Homo sapiens: one gene and its partners. The protein of the gene in region 3 interacts with the protein of the main gene of each other region in a pairwise test. Each region holds a gene or a part of one and is shown on either strand. Other genes may lie near its edges. The genes, in order: AMOTL2, HDAC7, MTCL2 and BHLHE40.

The links.
Region 1: the proteins of MTCL2 (region 3) and AMOTL2 interact in binary tests that used the Homo sapiens proteins (3 or more experiments, as listed by UniProt).
Region 2: the proteins of MTCL2 (region 3) and HDAC7 interact in binary tests that used the Homo sapiens proteins (3 or more experiments, as listed by UniProt).
Region 4: the proteins of MTCL2 (region 3) and BHLHE40 interact in binary tests that used the Homo sapiens proteins (3 or more experiments, as listed by UniProt).

The regions. Positions count from the first base shown.
Region 1 is NC_000003.12:134,357,448-134,365,381, forward strand, and holds part of AMOTL2 (angiomotin-like protein 2), read right to left. Parts: intron 4,361-7,934; coding exon 4,065-4,360; intron 2,967-4,064; coding exon 2,659-2,966; intron 2,057-2,658; coding exon 1,836-2,056; intron 1,273-1,835; coding exon 1,093-1,272; intron 317-1,092; coding exon 258-316; 3' UTR 1-257. UniProt on the Homo sapiens protein: Regulates the translocation of phosphorylated SRC to peripheral cell-matrix adhesion sites. Required for proper architecture of actin filaments.
Region 2 is NC_000012.12:47,809,631-47,817,586, forward strand, and holds part of HDAC7 (histone deacetylase 7), read right to left. Parts: intron 6,024-7,956; exon of another isoform or gene 5,045-6,023; coding exon of another isoform or gene 5,005-5,044; exon of another isoform or gene 3,451-5,004; coding exon of another isoform or gene 3,300-3,450; intron 1,324-3,299; exon of another isoform or gene 1,305-1,323; intron 1-1,304. UniProt on the Homo sapiens protein: Responsible for the deacetylation of lysine residues on the N-terminal part of the core histones (H2A, H2B, H3 and H4).
Region 3 is NC_000020.11:36,859,971-36,868,920, forward strand, and holds the start of MTCL2 (microtubule cross-linking factor 2), read right to left. Parts: upstream 3,569-8,950; 5' UTR 3,375-3,568; coding exon 2,688-3,374; intron 1-2,687. UniProt on the Homo sapiens protein: Microtubule-associated factor that enables integration of the centrosomal and Golgi-associated microtubules on the Golgi membrane, supporting directional migration. Preferentially acts on the perinuclear microtubules accumulated around the Golgi.
Region 4 is NC_000003.12:4,981,481-4,985,823, forward strand, and holds the end of BHLHE40 (class E basic helix-loop-helix protein 40), read left to right. Parts: coding exon 1-35; intron 36-1,355; coding exon 1,356-2,212; 3' UTR 2,213-3,843; downstream 3,844-4,343. UniProt on the Homo sapiens protein: Transcriptional repressor involved in the regulation of the circadian rhythm by negatively regulating the activity of the clock genes and clock-controlled genes.

The DNA of each region.
Region 1 (7,934 bases), on a different chromosome or scaffold from region 3:
CTGAATCCTCATTCTCCATAAGGCCCGGAGGAATGTGGGCTAAGAAGCAGAGTCTTCTGGGGGTGCCGGTGCTCTCACAGCTCTCCTCTCCCCTGGGGTCCTCCTCCTGAGCTCCTGGGACCAGATGGTCAATGGGAATGAGTGTCTGGCTGGGGAAAGGGACGGAGCAGCGGTTGACGGGGCTGCTGAAATGGCTGAGAGTGGCACAGGGCAGAGGAGGGGAGAGAATGGCTCAGAGTCCTGAAGCACCACCTCCTTCAGATCAGTATCTCCACCATGTCTGACAAGTCCTGGACTCTGGATGTAGCTACAGAGTCTGGAGACAGACAAGAACACAGGCACATGCCAATGAGTGTTACTAGATTGCTTTTAAAATCCTGGCACATTTGAAAGACAAAGATCGTTCTTCACCAACTTTTCCCACCTCTGCTGCCCAGGTTCCCAGAACTCGGCCAACCAAGCACAATGCTCTGCCCCCTTTCAGTGCTCAGCCCAGCCCACCAACCTCCGATGTGTAGGATGCATTTGTTTCTAACTTTGAACTGGTTGGAGGGCTTAGAGAGAGCAATGGAGAGCCCTGAGGGAGGCAGGCTGCAGCATTCTTTTCATGCCTGTGGTTTTCTGAGATCATGAGGCACAGGCAAATATGCAAAGGCCAATGTGAAAGGGGAGTGGAAAAAGAAATGGCATCTTCTCAGATTTCTCCTTCCCGGACTCTTTAAACAGGCTTCCAGAGTGCCATCGGCATGACTTGCGAGCTCCATTCTCTTGGATAATCAAATTGGAAATTAACTATGTAGGGAAGACCATGAAAGAGGAGCTAAAGTGCCTCCCATCTGGTTGCTTTCTTTCTGAATTCTGGATCTGCCTCTAATCAGGGTTTCCAATTTCCCTATTCATGCAACCAGCCATCCCTCATGTTCACATTGAGGTGGGCCAGGCACCCTGCTCACCTCTGGCTATGCACGGCTCCCCATGGAGTGCGGGCAATGACCCGGAGGGGGTCTGGGAAGAAAAGGCCTTGTGTTCCAGTTCACACCCCAGTGCCCCCTCGGCCCTACCTAGCACAGAAGTGGGGTCAGGAGGACTTACCCAGAGAGGCTGCTCTCTGGCTACTGCTGCACCCCAGAAGGCTGTCAGGCTCCGGTGGCAGGCAGGTGGAGGTGCTGTCTGGGGGGCCCTCAGTCTGGGTGCTCCCATCTCTGCTCCCGTGTTTGGCATGGGCAGCAGGGGGAGCTGTGACCACTGGCTCCTCTGTGGGTGCTCTGTCTGCTGGAAAGGTAGGTGGATGGTTATTGCCATGCCTGTAAGATGTGGCCCTGGTGAAGGACACTCTAAGTTAACTGTCCCTGCTGGGGATTCAAGGTGGAGTGGGCTGCTCTTGATTTGCAAGAACTTTAAGACTAAAAATGCTCCTATTTTCAAATGGGAATAACTACCAGATTGGATTGGCTTCCAAATGTTTTGGGTGGTGGGACCCTTCCTTATAGATTAAATCTTCTAGAGTTTCTGTGGCATCTGCTTAGAAGGAAGAGTGGAGGGAGCTTGCATACAAGGTGTATCTGCACAGGAAGCTCTATTTTTCTTAGTTCAGTGGCTGGGGCTGAAGCATGATAGAATTTATGGTGATGGGGACTAAGTACCCCTCTTCACACTGGCAGGAGAGCCTTGCGCTGTAGAGTCACTAGAGGCAGAGAATAAGCCAGCTCCCCTGGAAGAGGGTCAGGAAGCCCTGGCTCCTATAGCCTCAGTTCTGGGAGGAAAGGTCTGGCAATCTGTGTTCAGGCCCAGGAGAAATTACCTCTCAATCTATCCCAGCAGTAGCCTCCTCTTACCTGTAGTCAGCCGAGCAGGGGCGTCTGCTGTTTGTCGCTCACTAGAAGAGAGCCCTTGCCAGCCCTGGGTTCCTGCTGCCGCAGCCGCGAAAACAGATGGCACCGACTTGGCAGGCCGCAGGGAGCCCTGGATGGCCTTGCCAGGGTCTCTCCTGGAGCGCTGCTGAAGGACCTTGATCACTGCATCCTTCTCCAGGATCTGGGCATGGAGCACCTTTAACCTGAGGGGTGAGAGGCCATGCCCACATTGTCAGACCCACAGATCCAACAGCCTCCACCCTTCCTGCCTCATAGGAGTTAGAGGAAAAGCCCCCCCCAACTCCCCCAACCCTGCCAGGCTGGATCCTTCTGTGCTTGTAGCAGGGACCCAGAGAGGGCTTAGAAATGGCACCACAGCTCTGGAATTTGATGCTCTTAGAGCCCAGGCTCTGAAAACCACCAGTGCATAAGGCCCTGGGCCCTTCTCACACCAGCAAAGGCAGGCCATTAAGGATGGGTTCCAGATTCATCAGATGATAGTGGCGGCACAGCCCTCATCCTGGAGGGCGGCACTCCGGAGAGGGGAGGCAGGGCCCAAGCACTGGATGGCACCCAACACCTCCACAGTAAGAGTCTCCTGGGCAGACCAAGGACTCGGTATTTCTGGGCAAATGCATGTTTACAGTGCCTGGTGTGCCAATCATGCAGGTTCAGCTCAGAAGCAGGAGGGACTGCTGAGCTCTATGGGGAAAGGGGCCTGTTTATCAGGGATCAAGGGCAGGGCAGTGACTGGACATTGCCACCCACCCCCCCAACCTCAGGTGCCTGGCCTGCAATGCCGAACCTGCTTTCCATCTCCTGATGCCTGTGGCCACCAGTGAGCAGACCCTCATTGAAGCTGCTGCTGGGTGAGGGCTGGGGGGAATGTCGGATGAGAGTGGTGTCACGCTGAGCAGCAGCCGTGGCAGCCGCATCCATGGCAAACTGCCTCATGGCACGTTCCTCCAAATACTTCTGCTCCCACTTGGTCATGTCGGCCTCCAGCGCCAGGATCTGCTCCTCCTTCTCTCGCAGTTGTTCTGACAGTCGCAGGGCGCTGAGCTCTGGAGACCCACCACTGCCACTGCTACCACCTGGGGCACCTGCCTGTCTCTGCAGAGCAAGGAGTAGAGACCGTGGTCAAGGGTGCAGGTTGGGGTGTGGCAGCCACTGGTCTTCGCCTCCACACGACTGTCACTTGTACATGTACGTGTTCAGCCATACACAGCATACATTTCCCCATCCTTCCTCTACCGAAATGGGGATACAGCACAGGTCCCCATACCCCTGCCCTGAATCCTAGGGCAAGGGCATAGAGACCAGACAGATAATCCTCCAAACTGGCAAAGGGGGTGCTATCAATAATTATACTGGGAAAACTGGTGTACATTAGAACAGAACTGGGCAAACCAGGGGGTTCAGTCACACTACCTCTGTGGCAAGGGTAGGTTTGGGAGTGGAGAAATAACTCTATTTGGTTTGTAAACACCAAGAGTTGTTTACACAGAAGTCCGAAGTGAGGCTAAGCACAGTGGATCTGGACAACCATCTTTCCTCCCAATCTTGGGGAGGCATATAAAAGCTGGCTGGTGGCCAGACGCAGTGGCTCATGCCTGTAATCCCAGCACTTTGGGAGGCCAAGGTCGGCGGACCACGTGAGGTCAGGGGTTCAAGACCAGCCTGGCCAATATGGTGAAACCTCATCTCTACTAAAAATACAAAAATTAGCTGGGCGTGGTGGCGCACGCCTGTAGTCTCAGCTACTCGGGAGGCTGAGGCAAGAGAATGGCTTGAACCTGGGAGGTGGAAGTTGCAGTGAGCGTTCGCGCCACTGCACTCCAGCCTGGGCGACAGAATGAGATTCCATCTCAAAAAAAAAAAAGCTCGCAGGCCTTCTATATCCAGGTTCCTGACTTACTTTCTCTAGAGGTCAAGGACAACTAGCCCTGCTGCTGCCGAGGACAGGAGTCCCCCGAGGCTGGACATGGGCCAGGTGGCAGGGCCTCTACTAAGACAACGAGTGGAAGGGAGCACGCAGCAAAGGTGGAGCAGAGAGCAATCATCCTCGCCGCCTTCCAACGGGCCTGCAGCCTAGATCTAAGCAGGGGCTCCCGGGGCCTCAGCCCTGGCCTCCAAACCTACAGTCCCCGAGGAGGAAGGGAAGCCAACATCCTCAGATGCTGCCCTAGCCTGGAGACTTTCTCAGCTCACCTGCTGTGCACGCAGGGCCTTGAGTTCCTGCTCCAGGCGAGTCCGCAGACGCAGCTCCAGCTGCTCCCGCTTCTCACAGGCTGCCTGCAGCTGCCCGAGCGCCTGCTGCAGCCGCTCCACTTTCTCCACATAGGCCTGCTTCTTGCGCAGCTCCTCTTCGGCTCGAGCTGCCCGGCCCTGCGCATTGCCCAGAGCCTGCTCCAGCAGCTCGGCACGCCGCCGCTGGTCCTCGATGGCGCCGCGCAGCAGTGCCATCTCTCGCTCCAGCTTCTCTTGCTCCTGCTGCTGTTCGTAGCCTGTAGGGAGAAAGAGGCTTGATCAGTGACAGTGACCACGTTGGCTGGCCCCATTGCCTCCTGGGCTCAGTGCTGACCACTGGATGAGCACAGTTGCTTCTCATTCTCTCAAAAATAACAGGAATAAGGTACCACTATTAACCCTGTTTCATGGAAGAAGAAACCAAGGCTCATGTTAAGTCAGGAGTAAATGACAGAGCCCAATTCCAGGACCCTTGCAGTAACAACTGGGCTACCCTGCCTTTCTACTGGGACATACTGCCATGGGACAGCCCCAAACACCATCCACTTGTGCCAGGGGCACCATGTCTAAAACACATCCACAATATCCCTTGAACCTTGTGACGGCTCGAGACTGTTGAGGTAGGAACTGTGATGCCCATGTACAGATGAGAAAATAGAGACTCAGGTAGGCTGTGACATGGTCCTCCTTCCAGTGGGAGAATGAAAGAAGGGGGAACAGAACCACCATCGGCTGTCGGCACACCAGGCCCTTACACATCTTATTCCACGAATCCTCCAGCCCCTCCAGGGAGGATTTGGGATCCCCAACTTATAGGGGAGAAACATAGGAGGTGAATGGTGCTGCCAAATGGAAACCCCAGTTGGCCACACTACAAAGGCCCAGGCTGCCTCTGGCTACATGGTGAGGCGTTTGTACTTATAGGCCACCCAGAGCTCTGGGGCTCCTTCTGCAGACCCAGGCCGAGAGGTCCGTTGAGGGCTACATTTCCTTCCATGGTCTGAAAAGAACACTGAGATGTAAGCAACCAGGCTCAGAAGGAAATGCAAAGTCTGCAGTACAGTGAAAATGACTATGGCCCAAAGATTAGTGTGTAAGGGTCAAGCTATCCTGACTTTTAAATCATTTTGTTAATTGCCCAAAGAAACTGCTCAGAGGCCCTCTCCATAGGGCCAGGAGAAGCCCAAGCCAGACCACAGAGCCCTCCATCTGATGTTCTAGCCTTAAATCCACCTCCCAGGCACCTGCCCCTTGAGAGTCCCAGGCTGCCCCCTGAGGAGCAGGTCAGCTGCCTACCTTGCTGGAGAGCAGGTGGGGGGCAGGGCTATGGGCTCCCGCTAATGAACCTAAAGGCACTGTCTCTAGAACAGCATTCTGATTCAGTGGAATTTTCTGCCAGAGTGGAATTGTTCTATACGGCACCCTCCAATGCAGTGGCTACTAGACACACGTGCCACTGAGGACTGGAAATGTGGCTAGTAAGATGGGAGAACTGAATTTTAAATTTAATTTATTTTCATTAATTTCAATCTTTGGGCCACATGCAGCTAAGTACCTATCATATAGGACAGTGCAAGTTCTGGAACAGAAGGGTGAAGGCTTGAGACCTTGGCATGTGGAAGGGAGGATTCATTTACTCAGGTCCCTGGGGCAGGGCAGGGAGGACACAGAGGCAACTCAGGTTAGCTCTTGATTCATTTTGGATGTTTGAAGGCTGAGCCCAGGATGGTATCATTCTGTGGCATGGAGGAAAATACGAGGAAGTCCAATAATATTGAAACGGATGTGTTCATACTTCGCTGGCTTAACATCCATTGAGTGGGGTGTTAACATCCATTGAGGAGGGGCAGCCAGGTTGGGACTCAGGCAGGGAGGACCCTCCCCTAGTCCACCTGTGCGTTCAGTTTGCCCAGGGCCTGCATCTCATTTCAGCCTTAGCATGACTCTGTGGGGAAGGACTCTGTCTCATCTTATAGCTGGAGAATCTGGGGCGCAGGGAGAGAAGAAATATTCCCAAGGGGGTGGAGCTAACAGGCCAGCCTCAGGCCTCAAGGCCAGATCCCCAGGGGGCACTGCTGGCCTAGAAGGGCCAGAAGGGCAGTGCTGGGGGGCTGCGTGGCTTGCCTAGGAGGAAAAGCAGATGGCATTGGTGATAATGGCCACACTTTCCTAGTGTTGACTGACCCCAGATAAAAGGGAGGTCAATCAGACACCTCCCTTTGCAATAGCTACTAGGGAGCAAGGAAGAGCTGCTTGGGTTTCCTCAGCCCTGGGGGAGGAAGGGGCCGGAGGACCCAGCCCTCTGCTTCCAGAAGCTTCCTGCAGCCTTGTCCAACCTCTAAGGCCCTGGTGGGGGCTGGGAGGCTTTGAGCTCTGGCCATCCCCTACCAACAGGACCCTGATAAAACCTTGGGCCTGCGGGATCTCGGGAAGGAGAGCTCCTTAGTAAGAAATAAGTGGTCTGGGTGCGGGTGGGAAGAGGACGCCCGAAGGCCAGCGGAGGAGGGCAGGAAGGCAGGCGAGGCGCCGACGGGACCCGGGATGCGCCTTGGGCAGCGAGCGAGCCCCCACCTCCACGTTCCAGGCTCCCTTTGTGCTCACCCTCCCTCCTCCCAAAGCCGGGCGAAGGGCGCCAGGCAGCGCGCACGGGAGGGAGCGGCGGGGGGCGGGCCGGGAGCGGAACAGCTCGCGGCTCTGGAATGCCAGGCATCCAGGTCACCCGCGGCTGCAAGATTAATGGCTCCAGCGAGGAGCCAAGAACAGCTCGGCGCTCACTCGCTCCCCGGGGAGCGGAAACGCCTCCCGGCCGGCCCCCCTCTTCTCACCCACTAGCAAGCTCCCAGAAACCCGCCCCATGGCTTCCTTTCTTTGGCAGAGTCAGGCTCCAGAAGTCCGCCTTCCTCCACAGGCACCCTAATCTGCCGTGCCCTTGCAGCTTCTCCTCCCCAGACTCCTCAGGGAAACCCCAGGGCTGCCCCCTCCCCTTTCTCCCTCCTTCCCTTTGACTCCTTCCCAGAGACCTTAAGCCGCTGCCATCTCACCCCACCCAGCCAGAAGAGACCAGCCTACCTCCTGCCCCACCCTGTCAATTCCTTCAGTGCTGTGTTCCCCCATTCCCTGCCCTAGTCTTTGAACCCTCTTTGAAGGAAGATAGGGGTGCTGCCAGCCAGAGCTAAGTCCTCAAGCTGCTCCTCCATTTCTGCACCCCACACTACCCTTTGTGCCATTCACAGTAGGGTTCCTGTGAAGACTCAAAGCCATGTTTACCCAGCTACCAACCACTCCCATTCCACTTCTCTGCAAACACCTTGAACAGCACTAAAGCTCCTAGTAGGAGCTCAATAAATAACTGTTCTTAGTCTCTTCTGATTGCTAGAGCCTCCTGCTGCTGAGCTCAGGGCTCCCTTTGCCACCCACCCCATGTACCTCTTGAACTGCCCAATAGCTCCTTCACCTCTGGCTGGCTCTCCACCCCTGCCATCCCCACAGAGCCCCTCTCTCAGGCCACCGGGGCTCCTAATCACCGGTTTCTAGGGCCACCCCCGTTGTTCTTTTGCATCTGTGGGAACCTGCTCCTTTCTTAAGCTCACCACTTCCTTCCTGACCTCCCTGCCATGGTACCTTCCTGGGCCTGCTCCCATTCTCTCTTGAACATCTGCCAGTTGCTTAAAACACATCTGCTAATGAATGAATAAATGGACTAGTCAATGAACTTGCCCATTCTTCAAGGATGCTTAGACCGCCCCGTTTAGAATGCATCTGTTGGTTAAGGTCTAGGATCCCATTTTTGGCTGCCTCAGATGCCTCCACTTGGCTTGCTATGGCTCAGCT
Region 2 (7,956 bases), on a different chromosome or scaffold from region 3:
CACGATCTTGGCTCACTTCAACCTCTGCCTCCCGGGTTCAAGTGATTCTCCTGCCTCAGCCTCCTAAGTAGCTGGGATTACAGGCGTGCGCCAACATGCCTGGCTAATTTTTGTATATTTAGTAGAGACGGGGTTTCACCCTGTTGATTAGTCTGGTCTCGAACTCCCAGCCTCAAGTGATCCGCCCACCTCTGCCTCCCAAAGTACTGGGATTACAGGCCTGAGCCACCACACCAGGCCCCCACTAAACATTTTAATTGTACTATTGCAAGTAGTCCTCACAACTCTGTAAGGCAGATACTGTTTTTTTGTTTGTTTGTTTTGTTTTGTTTTTGAGACAGAATTTCACTCTGTCACCCAGACTGGAGTGCAGTGGCACAATCTCAGCTGACTGCAACCTCTGCCTCCCGGATTCAAGTGATTCTCCTGCCTCAGCCTCCCAAGTAGCTGGGATTACAGGTGCAAGCCACCATGCCCAGCTAATTTTTGTATTTTGGTAGAGACGGTGTTTCACTATGTTGGCCAGGCTGGTCTCAAACTCCTGAACTCACTGAATCCACCCACCCTGGCCTCCCAAAGTGCTGGGATTACAGGCGTGAACCACTGCGCCCGGCCTATATACTGTTATTATTCTCATTTTGCAAATGAGGAAACTAAGGCTAAGAGAGGTTCAGAAACTTGCTGAGGTCACACAGATGGTATGTGGAGCTGCTGGGACTCCAGAACCTAAGCTTAGCATCGGTACACTGGCGTGGACTGCTTACTCAGCCTGCCTCCTAGTAGTGGCTGAGGTGAGACCACCAAGGGGACAAGGGGATGCAAGACACAGTGAGGCCCTAGGGTATGCTCCCAATGCCAGCCTGTTCCCACAAAGTGTGCTGTGTTCCACCCCTGCCATCCTCAATTCCTTTTTCATCTTCTATTTCCCTTCCTTTTTAAATGTACATTTTACCATTTTAAAGTGTACCATTTAAACACTTTACAGTGTTTCCTGTTAGCTGCCTCCAGCAGGGTATAACTAAACAAGCAAACCTCCCAGGGCTGCCACAGAGGATCAAACGCTGCGTGAGCTCTCTGGAAACTGTCAAGCCCTCTACAAAATGCGGGTTGCATAACCAGAGCAAGTCACCCTCAGAGTGGGTACTCGGGGGTAAATTCTCTTGGGAGGAAAAGGTCTCTCTCTCTCTCTCTCTCTCTCTCTCTCTCTCTCTCTCTCTATCTCTATCTCTGTCTCTCACTCACGGGCAGGCCTTGGGCAGGTGGAAGCGCTGGAAGCACCCACAAGTGCAAAAGGGAGCACCTACCTTCAGGGCCACTTTCTGGGGACTAGGAACACAGCCGCACGGCTATCAGCATCCCTGGATCTGGGGCAGAGGAAGGCAGAAGCCACAATGGAGACCCTGGTCTGCACTCAGTAAGAACCAGGCAAACCGAACTGAGGCATCTCGGATGTGAATAGCCACAAGCTGTGAATCCTGACACTCACAGGGATGCCACATTAACATTAATGACAGTAAATACCCTAGAGGTCCCATCCCAGTGGTGCCCTAGAATCCCCCTCCTTTTGCCTATTACTTTGGAAGACAGCAGAAGTCTAGTGGGCAGATTCTCCACGTGACCTGATTCCCTTTTGCAGCCAGGCTGCCCTTGAGACTTGGTTGAAGGGGTTTTTCCAGATCACAAATCCAGCTAGGGTGCTTACACTGCCTTCAGGTCACTCAACAGACAGATGGCATGGTCCTGGGTACTGATTTGGACAAACCAGCTGTAAGGACAATTTCTGGCCAACTGGGAATTCCGTTAAGATGAAAATTTACTGTAATGGAAGGTGGAAATCACTGACTGAAAAAACAGTATATGCAGAGTAATCTCATTTTCATAAAAATTACAACACATAAAGACACATACGGAAATGGAAAGATGTGCAGTGATCTCTGACTGATGCGTCTGTGATGTTTTTTATTTTTTAGTTTTTGCTGGTCTGTCCTGTCTGAGTATCCACAATGCACATGGACTGCCTCTGTAATAATTACGCAGCATATATACGTACATAGACACAGCCCATGGTAGCAAAGTCAAAGTGTGACCTCGGGCTCCCGTGAGCATTAGTCCACAGGGTTTTCACCGCCCCCGGGTCTTCTTGGACCATATATCCTCTGAGGTTCCGTGTTATCTACAACCTAGCGTCCTCTGCCCCTCCTGAGTCTCGCCAAGGGCCTATAACACAGAGCTGGGCACAAAGTCAGGACTTACTTAATGAATGCCTTCTGGCTGAATAATGATCATTTCCTGAAAGAAATGCCTCATGCCTCTTCCAGAGCCGCTGTGCTGGGAATACTCACTGCTGACATCACTGACCTGCCCACCCCTCCTCTGTTCTTCATAAGAGCAACAAGGGAAGGGCTAAAATAAAGTTCACCCCAGCAGATGCTGGCAAGGTACTCCACATCAGGGCCATCAGGGGCAGCCCCATCCCAGACCCTCCCCAAGCTGGCACAGCAGCCCCTCTCCAGGGCCAGCTGGCTTCAAGGCCCTGGGGTCCCTCCTCGCCCTGCCTCACTGGGAGAGGCTGGGAGAGGGAGTGAACAAGAGAAGCAGGGGTCCACCCTATGACTTCTGGCTACAGCTCTCTGGCTGTTCCAGGCCGCGATGGGTGGAGGAATCTGGAACAGGGATTTGGCCTGGTTTTTTCTGTGAACTGGGGCTAGGCCCAGTTTCTGTTCTTCGTGTCTGCAACATTCCCTATCCCTGACCTTCAAAAAATATGAACAATAACATTAATAATGATGATGAATATTCAGTGAGCCCTGACTTCATACCAGGCACAGAGCTAACTTTATTTACATTATCTCCTTTAATCTTCATAGCAACTCCATAAAGTTGAAACTGTAATTATTTTCACATTACAGATGAAGAAGTGGAGGCACAGAGCAAAATGTGCCCATAATCACACTTGCAGGAGAAACCGAGACTCAGCCAAGGCCATCCCATTCCTCCCTCTGCGTCCTTACAGGAAGCTCTCCTGCCAGGCTTTGCCATATATACAGTAGGGTCTAAGGCGATAATTAACATCTGTAGAGTGCTTTAAGCACTAAGTGGGGCACAGAGAAAAGCCCCACTTGAAACTAGGAAATCGAGTCTCAGAGCCATCAGCATCCTTACTCAAGATCCCACACCTTTCGACTAAGATTCAAACCCAGATCTCTGGCGTCAGAATGGCACATTTCTTCCCTATTATCACACGATGCCCCTGGCTCACTCTCAAGGCGGCCCCGGCTGCCTGGAAGGGAGAGTCACACCTCCTTCAGCGCTGGAATCTGGGGGGCGAGGCCTGCGCTCAGCCCCTCGCCCGGTGGGGGTGGGGTGCTGCGCCAGCACCTCCTCAGCGTCTCCGCCGTGACTCACTCCCGGGACCCAGGGGAAGCACAGCCCTGCGCTGCGGGCAAACATCGTCCGCCGCCCGCCCCGCCTCCAGCTCCCCGCCTCCACATTTGCTAACCGAAACAAGGCTGCTGCTATTTTTAACCCTCCAGCTCCCCCTTGCCTGGGGCTCCCCCCTTCACCTCCCCACCCCCCGCCCCAGCCGGGTGCCACCAGCCTGTCATTCTGAGAGCAGTTCTATAACCTGAACGCGCCTGGGAGGGCGCAGCGGACGTCCCGGACGTGCAGGTTTGTGGGGCAAGCAAAACAAGACGGTTACAGCCCAATCGCCGAATTCCCCCACCCCAGACTCTTTCCGAACCTGTCACTCCCAGACTGCCCTGCTCCTCCTGCCATTCTGGGGGTTGGGGTAGAGGGGAATGGGACTTCTGGGCTGGGGTCACCTCAGGAGCCAGAGCTAGGCTCCTTGGAATGGGTCCTGCAGGGAGGAAGCTGAACTGAAGGGGATTGGAGTTCCCCTACGGATCCCCAGGGTGAGAGGCTGACCCTATAGGCCCAAAGCTTCTGACCACCAGGGTTTACAATCCCTGCAGGCAAGATGGAGGAAAAAGGAAGTGGTGCGGAGACAGGGTGGGGATGGTGAGCTTAGCCCAGGGCCTTCCTGACGAGGAGAAGTCCCCTCCCCATCCTGCTGTGGGGGCTGTGGAGCTTGGGCGGGAAGGCCTGGGAGTCGGGAAGAGCACTGAGCAGCCTCCAGAGAGGCCCAGGGTGGAAGGCAGCCTTGGCAGTGTGCAGGGGGAAAAGCGGACCTGGAGTCAGGGCTCCTTTGACACTCAATAATCTAAGGCAAGGGCCAGGCAACACCTTCCTGCAGCCTGAAGCTCTGGGTCCCCAGAAAAACCTTCCTGGGAGAAGAGGTTGGAGGTGAGAGGGGCTGAGGCCTGCTGGCCTAGAGCCGGAACCTGACACCCAAGTTGCTGATGTGAAAGTTAACCTCCTGAGAGGGGTGAAGCGTAGAGCTGCAGGTGGACCAGACAGGGGCATTTCCTCCCAGCTGATGTAGAGCCCGTGTCTTGAATCAGCCCCATCTGGCCCTCTGGTCTCAGAGTCTCCCCCAGTTTGGGCAGCAGATTCCAAGGGCCCAGGAGAGACTCTGGAGAGCCCAGCCAAAGGGCCATCTGGGCTCAGGTTTTTCCCGTGTGCCTCTCCTGTCCCAGCCTCCATCCTCCCTTGAGCCCTGTCCTCTCTGGTCCCAACCCCAGCCTTCCTTTCTGGTTCTGTCCTCTCTTCCAGGGCCCAGGTCCCCTCTAGGCCTTGACCCCCTCTCTTTGGTGATTCCTGAGCCAAGTAAAGTAAAGTGGCCACAGAGGCAGCAGGCTAGACCAGAGGGAAGGGACTTGGCACAGTAGTTCCCCAACTGGGGAGATGGCGGAGAAGGGAAGGAGGTGGGAGGAAGGTGAAACAGGAGAGCTCCTGGGGAGATGCTGCCTCCTTCTCAACATTCAGTATGGCCACAGGGCCCTGGACTCAGCCCCATGGAAGAAAAAGGGTGCTCCCCAAGCAAGGGAGTGGCTTTGATCTTGGCCTTGTGCAGCTCCCCCTTCTGCTCTCCCCTCTGCCAACCTTTGGGGCTGCTTAAGGGGAGGAGACTGCCATCTTCCATGCCAAGTGAGAGGCTGGCAATTCAGCTCCAACCCTTAGCCATTGGTCAGCCCAGGGCCTCCACCTGCATCCAGGGAGTTCACAAGCACGGCTCCAGAGGCTCTGATGGCTCACTTCCAACCTGGGGAGGTGGGAGACGGCATCAATGTCACCTTCTTAGGCAGTCCTCCCCTGGCCACCCTATCAAAGGAAGTCCCACCTTGTTATTCTTTATTGCCATGCCCAGTTCATTTCCTTCTTAGGGCTTATCACAGTGTGTAACTAGTCACACATACTCATTCCTTTACTTGCCTACTTGTTCTGTTTGTCTTCTCCACGAGAGTGGAAGTTCCCTGAGGTCAGATGTTGTGCCTGTGTGTTCACTGCATATCTGTACCCAGTGCCTAGAACATTGCAAGGCTCAGCTAGGATCCAGTGAATGGATGAATTGCTGAGTGACTGGCTCAGCAACATGGTTCCCTGGTTGCCAACATTGACCTTTAGGGATGACACTCAACAGTTCCAGGATTTCTCCAAAAAGGAGGCAGCAGAATGTAGCAAGAAGAACAAGGTCAGAAAACAAGAAAGCCAGGACCCCAGAGGAAAGATCAGCCCCAATTAGCACCAGCCCAATCGGGTCCACGTCATCACAAAGTGTAGTTATGAGCACACATGCACACACACACACAGGGGGTACATGGGTGAGCACAAAGTCCTGGACAGGTCTTAGAAGCCTTGAGTTTTCTCTTGGTTCTTCCTCTTAATGGCCCTGTCACCTTAGAGAAACTACATACCTTCTGTGGGTCTATTTCCTCAAAAGAAAAAATGAAGAGGTTGACCCAGGGCAGTGGTCCTCAAACACAGCCTTGCCCCAGGATCACCTGAAGCACCTGTTAAAATCTGGATTCCCAGGCCCCACCCCTCAGATTCTGACTAGTCAATCTGGAATGGGCCTGATGATCTGAATGTTTTTAATTTTGAGACAGTCTCACTCTATTGCCCAGGCTGGAGTGAGGTGGCGCAATCTCGGCTCACTGCAACCTCCACCTCCTGGGCTCAAGCAATTCTTCTGCCTCAGCCTCCCAAATAGCTGGGACTACAGGCCTGCGCCACCATGCCTGGCTAAATTTGTATTTTTAGTAGAGATGGGGTTTTGCCCTGTTAGCCAGGCTCGTCTCGAACTCCTGCCTTCAAGTGATCTGCCTGTTTCAGCCTCCCAAAGCCACCGCGTCCAGCCAGGATTTTTTTTTTTTTTTTTTTTTACAGAGTCTTGCTGTCACCCAGGCTGGAGTGCAATGGCGTGATCTTGGCTCACCGCAACCTCTGCCTCCCGGGTTTAAGCAATTCTCCTGCCTCAGCCTCCCGAGTAGCTGGGATTACAGGCGCGCACGCCACACCTGGCTAATTTTTTGTATTTTTAGTAGAGACAGGGTTTCGCCGCATTGGCCAGGCTGGTCTTGAACTCCTGACCTCAGGTGATCCACCTGCCTCGGCCTCCCAAAGTGCTGGGATTACAGGCGTAAGTCACCGCGCCCGGCCCAGGATCTTTATCTTTAACACATTCCCCAGGTGACTCTGAAGCAAATGGTCCAGGAACCCGCATTTGAGAATCCCAAATGAGATGGTGTTTTACAAGCCAGCATCTGGACTTCTATTAAAAAGCCACTCCTGCCCAGATATATACCCCCAAAAAACATGTCCATACATATGGACATGTTTACCCCACACAGGGCCATAACCTGAAAAGGTGTGCACCATACAGATGATGCACATCTGTCTTTTATGTGTGCATATTCCCAAAACACCCAACACAGAACCACCACATAGATCACAAATTGCCCGGAACCACCACATCAGCATACACAGGGTCTGGGGGGAGGGGTACACACACAGATACCCACCACGCACCCAGTGTGTGCTCACACACATCTCATGCAGACCCACACTAAACAGACGCTGTCCTGAATTTATTTTGCCTCTGGGAACTGGTCCAGGACCAAAGGAGCTATGCTCTGCTGATGAAAACATCCCTCCCACCTCTGCCACCCCCACCCCTGCCCCTTGCCCCAGGCAGCATGCTACCCACCTCTCCCTTGTAGGAGGAGGGAGACTGGAGGAGGGCAGTGGGGATGGGTTGGGAGGAAACAAGAGGCTAGGCCAGCGACTCAAGTTGCTCAGGGCCCTTCCGGGCGTCCAGCTCCCCTCTTTCCCTCTCCCTTCCCCCCAGAAGACGCCAAAGGGCCTTCCCCCAGCCCGCGAGTCCATGCTCACTCAGGCCACTCGCCTAGATTCCCAGGCCCCTGATCCTAGGGAGCCAAAAGGGTTAGGGAGGTGGCTAGATCTGGGGACTCCTCCTAATACTCAGGCCTCTAAGGAAAGGGCTGTCTGGGGGCACCTTCCTGTAGCCCTAAGGCCTGGGGCCTCCAGGGAAGGTTACCACAGAAACAGGGGGAAAATATTACAAGGAAACACAATACCCGGCAGGGTCACCTGCTGACCGGGCTTCCTGCTGTGTTGCCCACCCCCAGCTCACTGCTCTCACAGCCTCCTTCTCCAGCCTTGGCCTGGGCCTCCTCACCAAGGCTCTCCTTCCTGCCTCCCCAGAGCTGGGAGAAGCAGTCTTAAGCAGAAACTCTGCCCCTCCGTGGTTCCAAACAACAACATCGAGGATGGCCCAGAGCTGAGCCCCCCACTCCTAATCCTTACCAACCCCTCCTCACCATCACCACAGGAAATCAAAGCTTCCTGCCCCAAAGGAAGTGCCCCATCTAGTGAACAAATCCAACACACACAAATGCACAGTCCTGGGAGCCTCCGGGAGGACAGATGCCCTCCCGCTAGCCCCAGACTTTATTCAGGCCCTGCTTCCAGCAATACCCCACACCCCACTGGAGGCCTCAGTCCGAAGTCTAACTGAGGGCAGGCCAGGGAGAG
Region 3 (8,950 bases):
CACAACACCTCCAGTAATAACCCCTCTATTTATGGTCCACATTTAGTCTCTGGATTTTGACCCTGCCTCTGTGAGGCTGGCGGCTGGGATAAACAGATATACAGAGAAGTTAAGGGACTAACCCAAATGTACACAGTGAGAAGTGGCATGGGCTGGCCTTGCTCTCCTCTCTTACCCACACTCCTTCCCCTCTCTGGCCTTAGCGCTGTTCTTGAACTCAACGAGCATTCCAATTTCCCTTAGCCTGAAATCTTCTTACTCCAGACCCTCACTCAGTTGGCTCCACGGCATCCTGCAGCCCTCAGCCTCCCTGTGCACCCCAGCCCCCACCTTCGTGTGCTCCTGGCAAACTGTCCCCTTTACCCTCATTATGATCTGTGTTGTGATTTCTTGTATGACTATTGTTTAATTCTGGTCTCCCCAAAAGCTCTATGAAAACAGACACCTCATCCTCCCTTGTCCACAGCTGTATCCCAGATCTGCCCTAGCACACGGCAGGTTCTAAATAAACAGCTGCCGAATGAACCAATGAGGGGCCAGGAGAAAGAGCCCAGCCTGCCTTGGGTGATGAAGAGGATCTATTCTGCCCTCACAGAATCCACAAGAGAACAGGCTGGGTGCACATGGAAACATGTCCCGTGCCTCTGACAAGAGCAGTGATCAGAGGTTTACTACATACCAGGTGCTCTAATGGTGTTTGCAGGAATCAGCTCATTTAACCGTTGAGGTTGGAAAGCGTGTTACTGTCCCATTTTTACAAATGAGAAAGCAAAGGTCCAGGGCCTTTAAGTAACTTGCCAAAGATCACGCCGTCAGGAAGCGACAGACCCCAGATCCAATAGCAGCACGAAGCCTGAGCCACTGAATGAATGGTGGAAATTACGGTTCCATCTTGGCCCAAACGTGGGATGTCCCCAGCTGGACCCCGGCCCCTGTGAGATCCCGGGCTCAACCCCCAGCCTCCTGGGACTGTTTTCCCCTTTAAACAGTCATGGGTGCCTCAAACAGACTTTGGGTCAGAGCCTGATGACTTCCTGGGATGGACAGGGGCCCATGGAGATGGGTGCCTAGGAGCCCTGAAGCAAAGCTCTGCAACCCATCCCCCTTCACCAGAGTGAGTAGCAGGAACCGGGAGGCAGGGGTGAGGAACTCAGAGTTTCGGTTAAGGCCAATTCAGGCAGCACTCACTGGAAGCAGCTCAGAGCACCAAGAGGGCAGGAGCAAAAGACCCTTGTCCTGGCTCGTCACCTCCCTCCTCCTCCTCACCTTCCACTTGCCCTCTCCTTACCACCGGCTTCTGAAGACTCAAAGAGCCGACTGAACTCCCAGTTGCCAACACCGAACCCGGCCCTTGGGAAGACATCCTCCCATTTAACGGATGAGGAGACTGAGGCCTGGCTTGGGGAAAGGTGTCTCTTGATTCAGACAGACCTTGTCCTTCCATACTACAAGCATTTACAGAACTCAGGCTGGAGAGCAGATCCCGGGGAAAATGGGGAGACAGAGACATAGTTGAGCAAGACACCAACACTCTAATGAGGGAGAAGCCCATTTGGTCAGAAGAGCCACAAGGAAAAGTTAAAACCTAAGTGCTGAGGGCAGACATAAACCAGCAGCATGCTGTGAGCTCCACAGCCAGGGGCACTCTGGGTGTTGTGCCAGGCCATCATCCACTGACAAGAGTCGGCAACATTTCAGCCTCCTCCAAAACCGTGCCCAGCCAGCGGCAGGAGAGCTCAGGAAGCTTCCAGCCTCCCAGGGAGAGGTCAACACGTGCAAGCTGGGCTGTCCCTAAAGCTGCCATGGCACCTGGAAGCGTGCAGATGGAGCCCGGCTGGCACCCAGTAGGTGCTCATGTCCACTGAAAAAGCAAAGGCAAAGCCTGCTGTCCGGGGGAAGCCCTAGGGTCCCCACATGGCCACAGGGAAGTCCTGTTCCAGGTGGGCAGTTGCCCTCCTCTCACTGCGAACATGGAAAGGCACTGGCCACGAGGGGCCAATGGGGCTGTTGTGTGCACAAGGTCTGCCCCAGGGAGGGCAAAAGACACTGTCCTGGGATTTAGGAAGCTGCCTCTGAACCGGTTCTCCCACGACATCATCCTCCAGGCTGTGGGACCGTTAGGCTGGGCGGAAGTGGACTCCAGCCAAGGGGATGTTCCCAGATGTCATGCTTTCAAACTGGACCCGCCCAGAAAGGCAGGCAGAGACAGGCCTGCGCCCGGGAAAGCCCTGGGTAACGACTCAGGATGGCATTCAGGCCTTTCCTGGGCAGGGGATGGCCACAGGTTTCCCTGGCGGCGGTGTCTATCAATCCCGTCCCAAGAAGGAGAGCCTGGGCGTGGAGGTTCTGGGCAGCTGAAGGCAGAGATCCATCCCTTCCCTGGCTACCCACCCCCACCTCAGCAACGCCTCCCAGAACGCTCCAAAGCTTTCTCAAGTCCCCGCTCCCAGGTTAGGGCCCTGTAGCCAGTTCCAAGGTCTTTTTCAGGAGCGCGCTTCCCAAATAAAGTTGAGAGGGGGCGGGGGGAATGAGGGAGCCCCAGATCCACCTCAGAGTGGTCCCCAGAGGGCTTGGGCCCCTTTCTCCGGATTGTTCAGTGGGAAGGAGGGCCGGCTGGTGCCTCAGGCCCGCGGGACTGTGACAGCCGGCGACCCCTGCGACCTCCCTTTCTACCCGGGCGCCCCCACCTTGAGATAGTCGTTCTCCGAGCGCAGCTCCTCCAGCTCCCGCACCAAGCCGCTGGGCCCGCAGTCCAGCATCTCCTCGGTGAGGTCGGAGAAGGCAAGCGAGGCGCTGAGCGGCAAGCGGCTGCTGCCCACCGACGACGCGGCCACCGACGGCTCGTCCGGGGAGGCGGGCGGCCGCGGGGGCTGCTGCGCGGAGGGCGCGGGCTGGGCCGGCTGCCCCGTACGGACCCCCGCCGGGCCCCCGGCCGCGGACTCGGCGTCGCTGCTCAGCGCCAGCTCCAGGCCCAGCAGGCGCGCCTCCTCCGACGCGCAGTCCGACACCTCCGAGCTGCTATCCGTGAGGCTGGGGGGCGGCGGTGGCGGTCGCGGCCCCGCACCCGAGCGCGGACGGCCCTTGGCACGGACCCCGGTGCGGACCCCGGCCACCCGCACACCCGCACCGCGCGCCCCGGGAGCCACTGCGCGCCCCTTCTTGTCCGGCCGTGAGGAGAACGCGGCGCTGCAGGCGACTGCTGAGCCCGGGCCTGGGCCGCGGCGGCCCTTAGCCAGCGACCAGCCGGCCACGTCTTTGGGCCGGGCCGGCGACGGCGCGCGGTGGCTCTTTTTCCTCTCCGGGGCAGGCGCGGGTGCAGGCGCGGGCTGGGGACCGCAGCCCCGGACCGGGGGCTCGGCCGCCGGCGCCTCCATCGCGGCCTCCCTCGGCCTCAGCGAGCTGCGCGCATGGCCCAGGCCCGCCCGGCCTCGACGTCCCTGGGGAGGGACCCGGCGCGGCTCCGGCCGCTGGGGCTGCGGCTGCTCTCGGCCCACCTCGGCCCCGACACCGCGTCCCCGTCCCAAGCCCCGCCGCGCGGTCTCTCCGCTGCTCTGGGCTCGGAGAGTGCGGCCCGACCGCCTCCAGGCGCCCCGGCTCCGGCTGCGGCTCCGCCCGGCGCCCGCCCCCTCGGCCTCGCCGCGCCCCCGGAGCGCGCCCGGGCCCCCGCCGCCCGCACGCCGATCGCTCCCTCGGGCTCCGAGTCCGGCTGCGGCCCGGGCCCCGGCTCCGCCCGGCGCAGCCCGCCCCCCGCGCAGCCCCGCCAGCTCCCCGCCCCGCCGCCTCGGCTCGGGGGCGCGCGGTTCCGCGAACAAAAGGCGGACGCGGCGGGAGCGGCAGGGAGGGACGCAGGCAGGGAGCGAGGGAGGGATCTGCGAGGCAACAGCGACCCCTTCGAGGGTCAGGCTGGCGCGGGCAGCCGCGGCCCGGGCTCCCTCCTCCTCCGCTCCGCCGCCTCCTCCCCTGCCCGCTCGGGGAAGGCACCCGGCGGAGGCGCCCCTGCGCCCGGCGTCCGGGCAGGGCCTGCGAGAGCGGCGGGAGCCGGGACTCCCGGGCCGAGGCCGGGCGGACCTCAGTTCGCAGGAACCCGCATCCATGCACGCCCAGCGCCTCGCCCCTCGCCCCGTGCCGAGCGTGCGCGAACTCCGCCCCCTTAGCCGGCATCGCCGGAGCCGCGATCCCATCGCACAGATGCGTAAACTGAAGCCTGGGGTGCACGCGCCAAGCTCACGGTCTAGGCGGCGCCGATGGGACCCAAAGCTCACACCTCCCGGGCGCGCTCGGGCTCCCCCTGCCTCGGCTTCCCTCTCCTGGCATAGGGACCGTGAAGCCCTGTGTGCATGCCTGGCTCGCGCACCTTGACCGGCGGATATTTCTCCCCATGCGCCCCCGACCCGGGTTTCAGGCTCTGTACGGCTAAAATGGAAGCGACCCGTAGCTAGGCGCGGTGGCTCATGCCTGTAATCCCAGCACTTTGGGAGGCCGAGGCGGGTGGATCACGAGGTCAGGAGTTCGAGACCAGCCTGACCAACATGATGAAACCCCGTCTCTACTAAAAATACACAAATTAGCCGGGCGTGGTAGCGCGTGCCTGTAATCCCAGCTACTCGGGAGGCTGAGGCAGGAGAATCGCTTGAACCCGGGAGGCGGAGGTTGCAGTGAGCCGAGGTCGCGCCACTGCACTCCAGTCTGGGTGGCAGAGCTAGACTCCATCTCAAAAAAATAAACAAATAAATAAAAACAAAAATAAAATGGAGGGGACCTATTACGAGATGTCAGCCTAGCGGATGCTTTGGAAGGCGGTTTTGGCCCCCGTGGGGGCTGGCATGGGCTGGGACGGTTGCCCTGACCCCACACGTCCCCACCAGGAGCAGTGCAGGAGGACTTGAGCTCTGATGGGCGTGTTTTCTTTCCTCCCGGGCGTCTGGGCGTCTCCTTGGCTCCTGGCCGTGTTGATTTTCCCATGTCTCTCACACCTTCCCCAGCCCCCACACCGCCTGGCCGCTACGCCCCCATCCCTGAGCCACCGCAGGGCAGAGCTGGATTGAGTGCTTTGCCCCACAGATGTACCCTCGTCCTTAGGGTGCCCCACACCCCTTGCCACCAGAAGGGCAGGGCTGTTTTTGCCCCTTTACAACCTCTTTCTCCTCCTGTTCTCTCCTCCCCCTCCCATTTATCCCCTGCTCTTTCTTCCTCCTTCTTCTCCCATCTTTCCCCTTCCTTTCCCCCCTCCTTTTCCAAGTCTTCCTTTTCCTCCTCTTTCCCCTCTTCTTCCTCCTGCCCATTTTCTCCTTCTTCTTCCTCCCCCAATTCCCTTCCTTCACCTCTGCACCTGCCTGTGACACAGCAGGCACCAGGTCCACTTCTTTGTCTCTGTCCCACCTCCCCCACACGCTGTGAATACACTCCTGGGGCATCCCCTCTCTCCAGAGGCATGACTTCATCTGGATCCAGGTGAGTGAGTGCTCCTCCACCCCAACGCTAGGTGCCCTCCATACGGCCAAGTGAGGAGCAGGCACTCAGCAGGCTCTTGGCAAACACTTCCGCAGGGGCATCCCCACCCCCTCCTAGCAAGACACCAGCTCCCCTCACGGCCCACTGACTGTCCACAAACCCTGTTTGCACAGGCGCCAGGTACACTGAGGGACGCAGTGGTGGGCATGTCAGTGCCTGAACTCATGGAGCACACAGTGTGTGTTGGGGGGGACCACAAAAGACTCAGCACAAACAGGGTGGCATGGCATGTGGGCAGGAGTGCTGGAGAAGGATGTGGGAGCCGCAGGCTAGTGACCCAGGGCAGGCCTTCCCACATTCCGGGCCTCAGAGTCCCCACCTGCTCTGGTCTAATGTAACAGATGACAGGGTCCATCCAGCTCAGATGCCCCTGGCTCTAGTAGGCTGCATCTAGTCTGGCACAGAAAGATGCTGTGAAGCTCTTGGAAAGTGTGTCCTCTCTCTGTGCTTCAGTTTCTGCCCCTGTGCAGAACATAGGTTTGGAGGTGTTGGGTGGTGTGAATGCAGGGACATAGCAGACCAGGCTGGCTCAGCCACTCCTGACACACCCTTGGTCACATCAGTGGTCCTGAGATTAGAGTGGCCTGCATCTCTCTTCTAGGGCAGGGATCTGAGTCCTGGCTCTACCACCTATCCTCTCTGGGCCCAACACTCATGGCTGGCCAGGGAGGGGCCTGTGGGTCCCACCTGCTCTGAGGTGCTTTGGATTTGGGGAGTCAAGAATCTACATTGTAGACCCAGGGAAGCCTTGAGAACAACAGGGCTCTGGTGGGGAGGGACTAGGTGGGGCTGACGTAGGGGCTGTGGACTCAGGGTCAGTTCAGACCAGGGATACCACAAAGGAGATAAGACTTGTTGAGAGTCCAGAACTGGCTACATTGTAGACGGGGTGACCGTCCTTGCGCCGGCACATCCTGCAGCTGTGTGATGCGTGGCCTCTTCCTGTGTGCCGGGCTCTGTGCTCCACATTTCAGTAAAGGATCTCCAAAAGGTGAAGATACTTCTTGTGACTGATTAATATTTTCCAAAGGGTATATCTCATCCCAATTGCTCTTCTTACAATGTGACACTGATGCTCCTCCAATTGAGCGGCACATGTGTGCGGCACGTGTGTGGGGGCACTGTGTGCCCCCACCTTGAATCTCAGCAGATCTTGTGACTGTCTCAACCAACAGAGTATGGCAGAAGTGTTCATCTGTGACTTCCAAGGTTAGGTCATAAAAAGCAACATGGATTCCACCCAGCTTGCTTCTCTCTCTCTTTCTCTCTCTCTGTCTCTCTGGCCACTCACCCACCATGATAGGAGGAAGCCCAGGCCTCATGGGGAGACCGCATGAAGGTGATCTAGCCAACAACTCCAGCTCTGGTCCCCACTAACCACCAGACATGTGAGAGAGTGAGCCTGCAGATGATTCAGCCCCCAGACTTGGAGCTGCCCCAGTGGACAAGTGGAGCAGAAATGAGCTGTCTCACCAACCCTGCCCAAACTGCAAAATAAGTATTGTTGTTTTCGGCCACTAAGTTTTGGGGTCATTTGTTACATAACACTGGGTAGCTGGAATGTGTGACCAAGGTCACACAGCTTGGATGTGGCAGGGCTGGGATTGACTTGAACCCAGAGCTGCCCAATTCCAGGGCCTGTTGTGGTACCCTATTGGGCTGCGAAGTGCCCAGCACAGACACACAGTGTGTGCTGCAGAAAGCGCTACTCAAAAGAGACTGAAGCATTACCTTGTAAGAATTATATAACATAGGAAGTGAAGATGCTGATTACCCAAGTAGAAAAACGGTTTCATTTCTCCCATTCAAGCTGCTAAATTGACCAACGTGATGAAAACTGAATGGAGACTCACTCCTGGAAAGCTTCCAAGAGGAGGTGTGTTTTTTCCTTTTAAACTAAAGTTGTTTTGTTTTGTTTTTTCATTATACAGATTAAAAAACAAGCAACTGGCTATGGGAAAATTAGAGGAATCGGTCGGGAAACCTCATTAAATAGGGGAGTCAGGAAGGCCTCTCAGAGAAGGCAGCCTTTTTTGTTTTTGTTTTTGTTTTTTGTTTTTTGTTTGAGATGGAGCCTAGCTTTGTTGCCAGGCTGGAGTGCAGTGGTGCAATCTTGGCTCACTCCAACCTCTGCCTCCTGGGTTCAAGCGATTCTCCTGCCTCAGCCTCCCAAGTAATTGGGATTACAGGCATGCGCCACCATGCCCAGCTAATTTTTGTATTTTTAGTAGAGACGGGGGTTTCACCATGCTGGCCAGGATGGTCTCGATATCCTGACCTTGTGATCTGCCCACCTTGGCCTCCCAAAGAGCTGGGATTACAGGTGTGAGCCACTGCACCCAGCCAAGGAGGCAGCCTTTAAACTGAGTTATTCTTTTTTTTTTTTTTTTTTTTTTTTTGAGACAGAGCTGTCGCCCAGGCTGGAGTGCAGTGGCGCGATCTTGGCTCACTGCAAGCTCCACCTCCCAGGTCCACGCCATTCTCCTGCCTCAGCCTCCAGAGTAGCTGGGACTACAGGCGCCCGCCACCACACCTGGCTAATTTTTTTGTATTTTTAGTAGAGACGGGGTTTCACTGTGTTAGCCAGGACGGTCTCGATCTCCTGACCTTGTGATCTACCCGCCTCGGCCTCCCAAAGTGTTGGGATTACAGGTGTGAGCCACTGTGCCTGGCCTAAACTGAGTTATTCAAGGAGCCACTGAACAGTTAGGGCCTTGCCTTTTTTTTTTTTTTTTGAGACAGTGTTGCTCAGGCTGGAGTGCTGTGGTGTGATCTTGGCTCACGGCAACCTCCACCTCCCAGGTTCAAGCAATTCTCTTGTCTCAGCCCCCTGAGTGTTGGGATTACAGGCGCCCACCACCACACCTGGCTAATTTTTTTTTGTATTTTTAGTAGAGACGGAGTTTGACTATTTTGACCAGGCTGGTCTCTAACTCCTGACCTCAAGATCTGCCTGCCTTGGCCTCCCAAAGTGCTGGGATTACAGGTGTGAGCCACCATGCCCGGCTGCTGCTTTTTCTTTTTTCTTTCTTTTTTTTGAGACAGAGTCTCACTCTGTTGCCCAGGCTGGAGTGCAGTTGCACGATCTCAGCTCACTGCAACCTCCACCTCCCAAGCTCAAATGATTCTCCTGCCTCAGCCTCCCGAGTAGCTGGGATTACAGGTGCGTGCCACCACGCCTAGCTAATTTTTTTTTTTTTTTTTGAGATGGAGTGTCACTCTGCCGCCCAGGCTAGAGTGCAGTGATGCCATCTCAGTTCACTGCAACCTCCACCTCTTGGGTTCAAGCAATTCTCCTGCCTCAGCCTCACAAGTAGCTGGGACTACAGGTGCCCGCCATCATGCCTGGCTAACTTTTGTATTTTTAGTAGAGACAGGATTTCACCGTGTTGGGCAGGCTGGTCTCAAACTCCTGACCTCAAGTGATCCACCCACCTCG
Region 4 (4,343 bases), on a different chromosome or scaffold from region 3:
GAAAATCATTGCCCTGCAGAGTGGTTTACAAGCTGGTGAGTGCTGATTCTGGCTATGCTCTCTTTAAGAGTTTGAGTGCAAATAGAGAGCCCGTGGGCTCAACATCTGATGTAATAAACATTACTGCAACAAATTGCTTATGCACGTTCATTGGGGGAGATGCAGTTTTATCTTTCCTAAAAGGTCAGACTTTTCATTTGAAATGCATTGTGCCACCTGGCATGAATACGTATTAGTGAAATGATAAGATATTCCTGTGGCATTTTAGCTTGAGAGTCTCTGGGTTCTGGGAGATTTCCCTACTCCCTTTTAAAATGCCAAGGCACCTATAATTTGCATTGTGGGTGTTTTACAGTTGGTCTTCTTAGCCCTCTTTCATTGGAGAAGAAATCATGGGTATGCCCCAGCGTTTTCCTGTTTCTTTGCTTCCTTGTCACTTGGTGTGTGGTGTGATCCTGGCAGGATACAGCAGGAGTTTTTCCTGCATTTCATGTGGTTCCCTGAATAGCCACTAGGTATCTTGGTGAATTGCACAATCTAGCGAAACCACTGAAGTTTCATCATTCGTTTCTACTGACTTCCAGATAATCGGAGTCAACCTTCTAACCTTCTAGTCTCACTTCTTCCAAATAATACTGTACAGACTGGGGAGAATTATTCTACCCACTCCCTCATTTCATGCTTGTCTGCCTTCCTCTCGAAGGCTCGTATGATGAAAATTGCAAAAACCCAGCTAGTGCTTCTGCCTGTTTCCTCATTCAAAATAGGAAGATGGTCATACCTAATGTCTTGAGGATCATGGATAGAATATGTGGAGAAGACATAGAAATAGCCTAATTAAAGGTCACAGCATGACTGCAACTTTTACAAATCATTGAAAATAAGTTTACTTTAGGTGATTGTTGTTTCTTCATTCTTTTCCTCATTTTATAACTATCCAGCCTCTGCCCATTTTGCCACGGTGCAATGTTGTATGCATTGACTCTTAGGTTTATAAATACATCAGAATGTTCTTTGCTGCCTCGCTTACATGGAAAACTCACAAACCACCTATACAATCCAAAAGAGGGGAAACAGCTCATCTCATATTAATTATGGTCCATTTCCATGATAGGATATTATGCAACCATTAAAAATCATATTTTATCTGAGTGTTAGTATATGGATTATTTTAATTATTTATACTTTTCAGTGTAATTCTTCTCTGAGCATACTACTTTTGGAGTTAGGAACACAAATCAGTAAATGCATTTTTTTTTTTAACAAAAACTAAAGCACCTGGTTTTTTGGAGTATAGTTTCCAGGTGCGCCACAGGCCTTCTGAAACGTTTTCCTTCGGATTTTTCTTTCCCCAGGTGAGCTGTCAGGGAGAAATGTCGAAACAGGTCAAGAGATGTTCTGCTCAGGTTTCCAGACATGTGCCCGGGAGGTGCTTCAGTATCTGGCCAAGCACGAGAACACTCGGGACCTGAAGTCTTCGCAGCTTGTCACCCACCTCCACCGGGTGGTCTCGGAGCTGCTGCAGGGTGGTACCTCCAGGAAGCCATCAGACCCAGCTCCCAAAGTGATGGACTTCAAGGAAAAACCCAGCTCTCCGGCCAAAGGTTCGGAAGGTCCTGGGAAAAACTGCGTGCCAGTCATCCAGCGGACTTTCGCTCACTCGAGTGGGGAGCAGAGCGGCAGCGACACGGACACAGACAGTGGCTATGGAGGAGAATCGGAGAAGGGCGACTTGCGCAGTGAGCAGCCGTGCTTCAAAAGTGACCACGGACGCAGGTTCACGATGGGAGAAAGGATCGGCGCAATTAAGCAAGAGTCCGAAGAACCCCCCACAAAAAAGAACCGGATGCAGCTTTCGGATGATGAAGGCCATTTCACTAGCAGTGACCTGATCAGCTCCCCGTTCCTGGGCCCACACCCACACCAGCCTCCTTTCTGCCTGCCCTTCTACCTGATCCCACCTTCAGCGACTGCCTACCTGCCCATGCTGGAGAAGTGCTGGTATCCCACCTCAGTGCCAGTGCTATACCCAGGCCTCAACGCCTCTGCCGCAGCCCTCTCTAGCTTCATGAACCCAGACAAGATCTCGGCTCCCTTGCTCATGCCCCAGAGACTCCCTTCTCCCTTGCCAGCTCATCCGTCCGTCGACTCTTCTGTCTTGCTCCAAGCTCTGAAGCCAATCCCCCCTTTAAACTTAGAAACCAAAGACTAAACTCTCTAGGGGATCCTGCTGCTTTGCTTTCCTTCCTCGCTACTTCCTAAAAAGCAACAAAAAAGTTTTTGTGAATGCTGCAAGATTGTTGCATTGTGTATACTGAGATAATCTGAGGCATGGAGAGCAGATTCAGGGTGTGTGTGTGTGTGTGTGTGTGTGTATGTGCGTGTGCGTGCACATGTGTGCCTGCGTGTTGGTATAGGACTTTAAAGCTCCTTTTGGCATAGGGAAGTCACGAAGGATTGCTTGACATCAGGAGACTTGGGGGGGATTGTAGCAGACGTCTGGGCTTTTCCCCACCCAGAGAATAGCCCCCTTCGATACACATCAGCTGGATTTTCAAAAGCTTCAAAGTCTTGGTCTGTGAGTCACTCTTCAGTTTGGGAGCTGGGTCTGTGGCTTTGATCAGAAGGTACTTTCAAAAGAGGGCTTTCCAGGGCTCAGCTCCCAACCAGCTGTTAGGACCCCACCCTTTTGCCTTTATTGTCGACGTGACTCACCAGACGTCGGGGAGAGAGAGCAGTCAGACCGAGCTTTCTGCTAACATGGGGAGGTAGCAGGCACTGGCATAGCACGGTAGTGGTTTGGGGAGGTTTCCGCAGGTCTGCTCCCCACCCCTGCCTCGGAAGAATAAAGAGAATGTAGTTCCCTACTCAGGCTTTCGTAGTGATTAGCTTACTAAGGAACTGAAAATGGGCCCCTTGTACAAGCTGAGCTGCCCCGGAGGGAGGGAGGAGTTCCCTGGGCTTCTGGCACCTGTTTCTAGGCCTAACCATTAGTACTTACTGTGCAGGGAACCAAACCAAGGTCTGAGAAATGCGGACACCCCGAGCGAGCACCCCAAAGTGCACAAAGCTGAGTAAAAAGCTGCCCCCTTCAAACAGAACTAGACTCAGTTTTCAATTCCATCCTAAAACTCCTTTTAACCAAGCTTAGCTTCTCAAAGGCCTAACCAAGCCTTGGCACCGCCAGATCCTTTCTGTAGGCTAATTCCTCTTGCCCAACGGCATATGGAGTGTCCTTATTGCTAAAAAGGATTCCGTCTCCTTCAAAGAAGTTTTATTTTTGGTCCAGAGTACTTGTTTTCCCGATGTGTCCAGCCAGCTCCGCAGCAGCTTTTCAAAATGCACTATGCCTGATTGCTGATCGTGTTTTAACTTTTTCTTTTCCTGTTTTTATTTTGGTATTAAGTCGTTGCCTTTATTTGTAAAGCTGTTATAAATATATATTATATAAATATATTAAAAAGGAAAATGTTTCAGATGTTTATTTGTATAATTACTTGATTCACACAGTGAGAAAAAATGAATGTATTCCTGTTTTTGAAGAGAAGAATAATTTTTTTTTTCTCTAGGGAGAGGTACAGTGTTTATATTTTGGAGCCTTCCTGAAGGTGTAAAATTGTAAATATTTTTATCTATGAGTAAATGTTAAGTAGTTGTTTTAAAATACTTAATAAAATAATTCTTTTCCTGTGGAAGAGAAAGATGGTCTCCTGAGTTTTTTAAAATAGCTCACTTGGTGTGATATGGCTGACTCCCATGTCCTTCTTTCTTGGCTGAAGCAAACCAGTTAATCTCAGTGTAATTTCATTCAGCTTTTCATGTGCTTTGTATTCAATCAGAATAAGCTTAGTCAACCTGGCAGGTAAATATTGGTTCAATTTTTGTTTAACCCTTGCCAGGGGTTCATGATCATCCTCTACCTCTTTCCAGAGTTAAGTAAAAAGCATATTTTCCCCTGCCTGCTTTCATCGTGGTCCTTGGAACTTGACAGAAAACCAAGGTATGACACCGTGGGCAGCAGTGTCTGGGGAGCCTGCTGGAGGGAGAGGCACATTGAGAAAAGATTTACTGGATTATTATGCAATACTAATTGATGCTAGGATAGCACCTCTTTGCCAAAGCAGTCTAGCTTTTTCAAATCTAGCAAGGTCTAATGGATTTGCCATATCCTGTCTTATTCCTGCTGGAGGCAACATTCCATAATTATTTTCTACATCCTTCCTGGACTTCCTCTCCGGTATGTTTGTGCGTGAATGCATATTGGGTGTTCCTTCGACAAGTGCTCTTATTTAAAAAAAAAAAAAAAAAATTCCATGGGAAAGGTGGGAAATGACCCTGTCGTG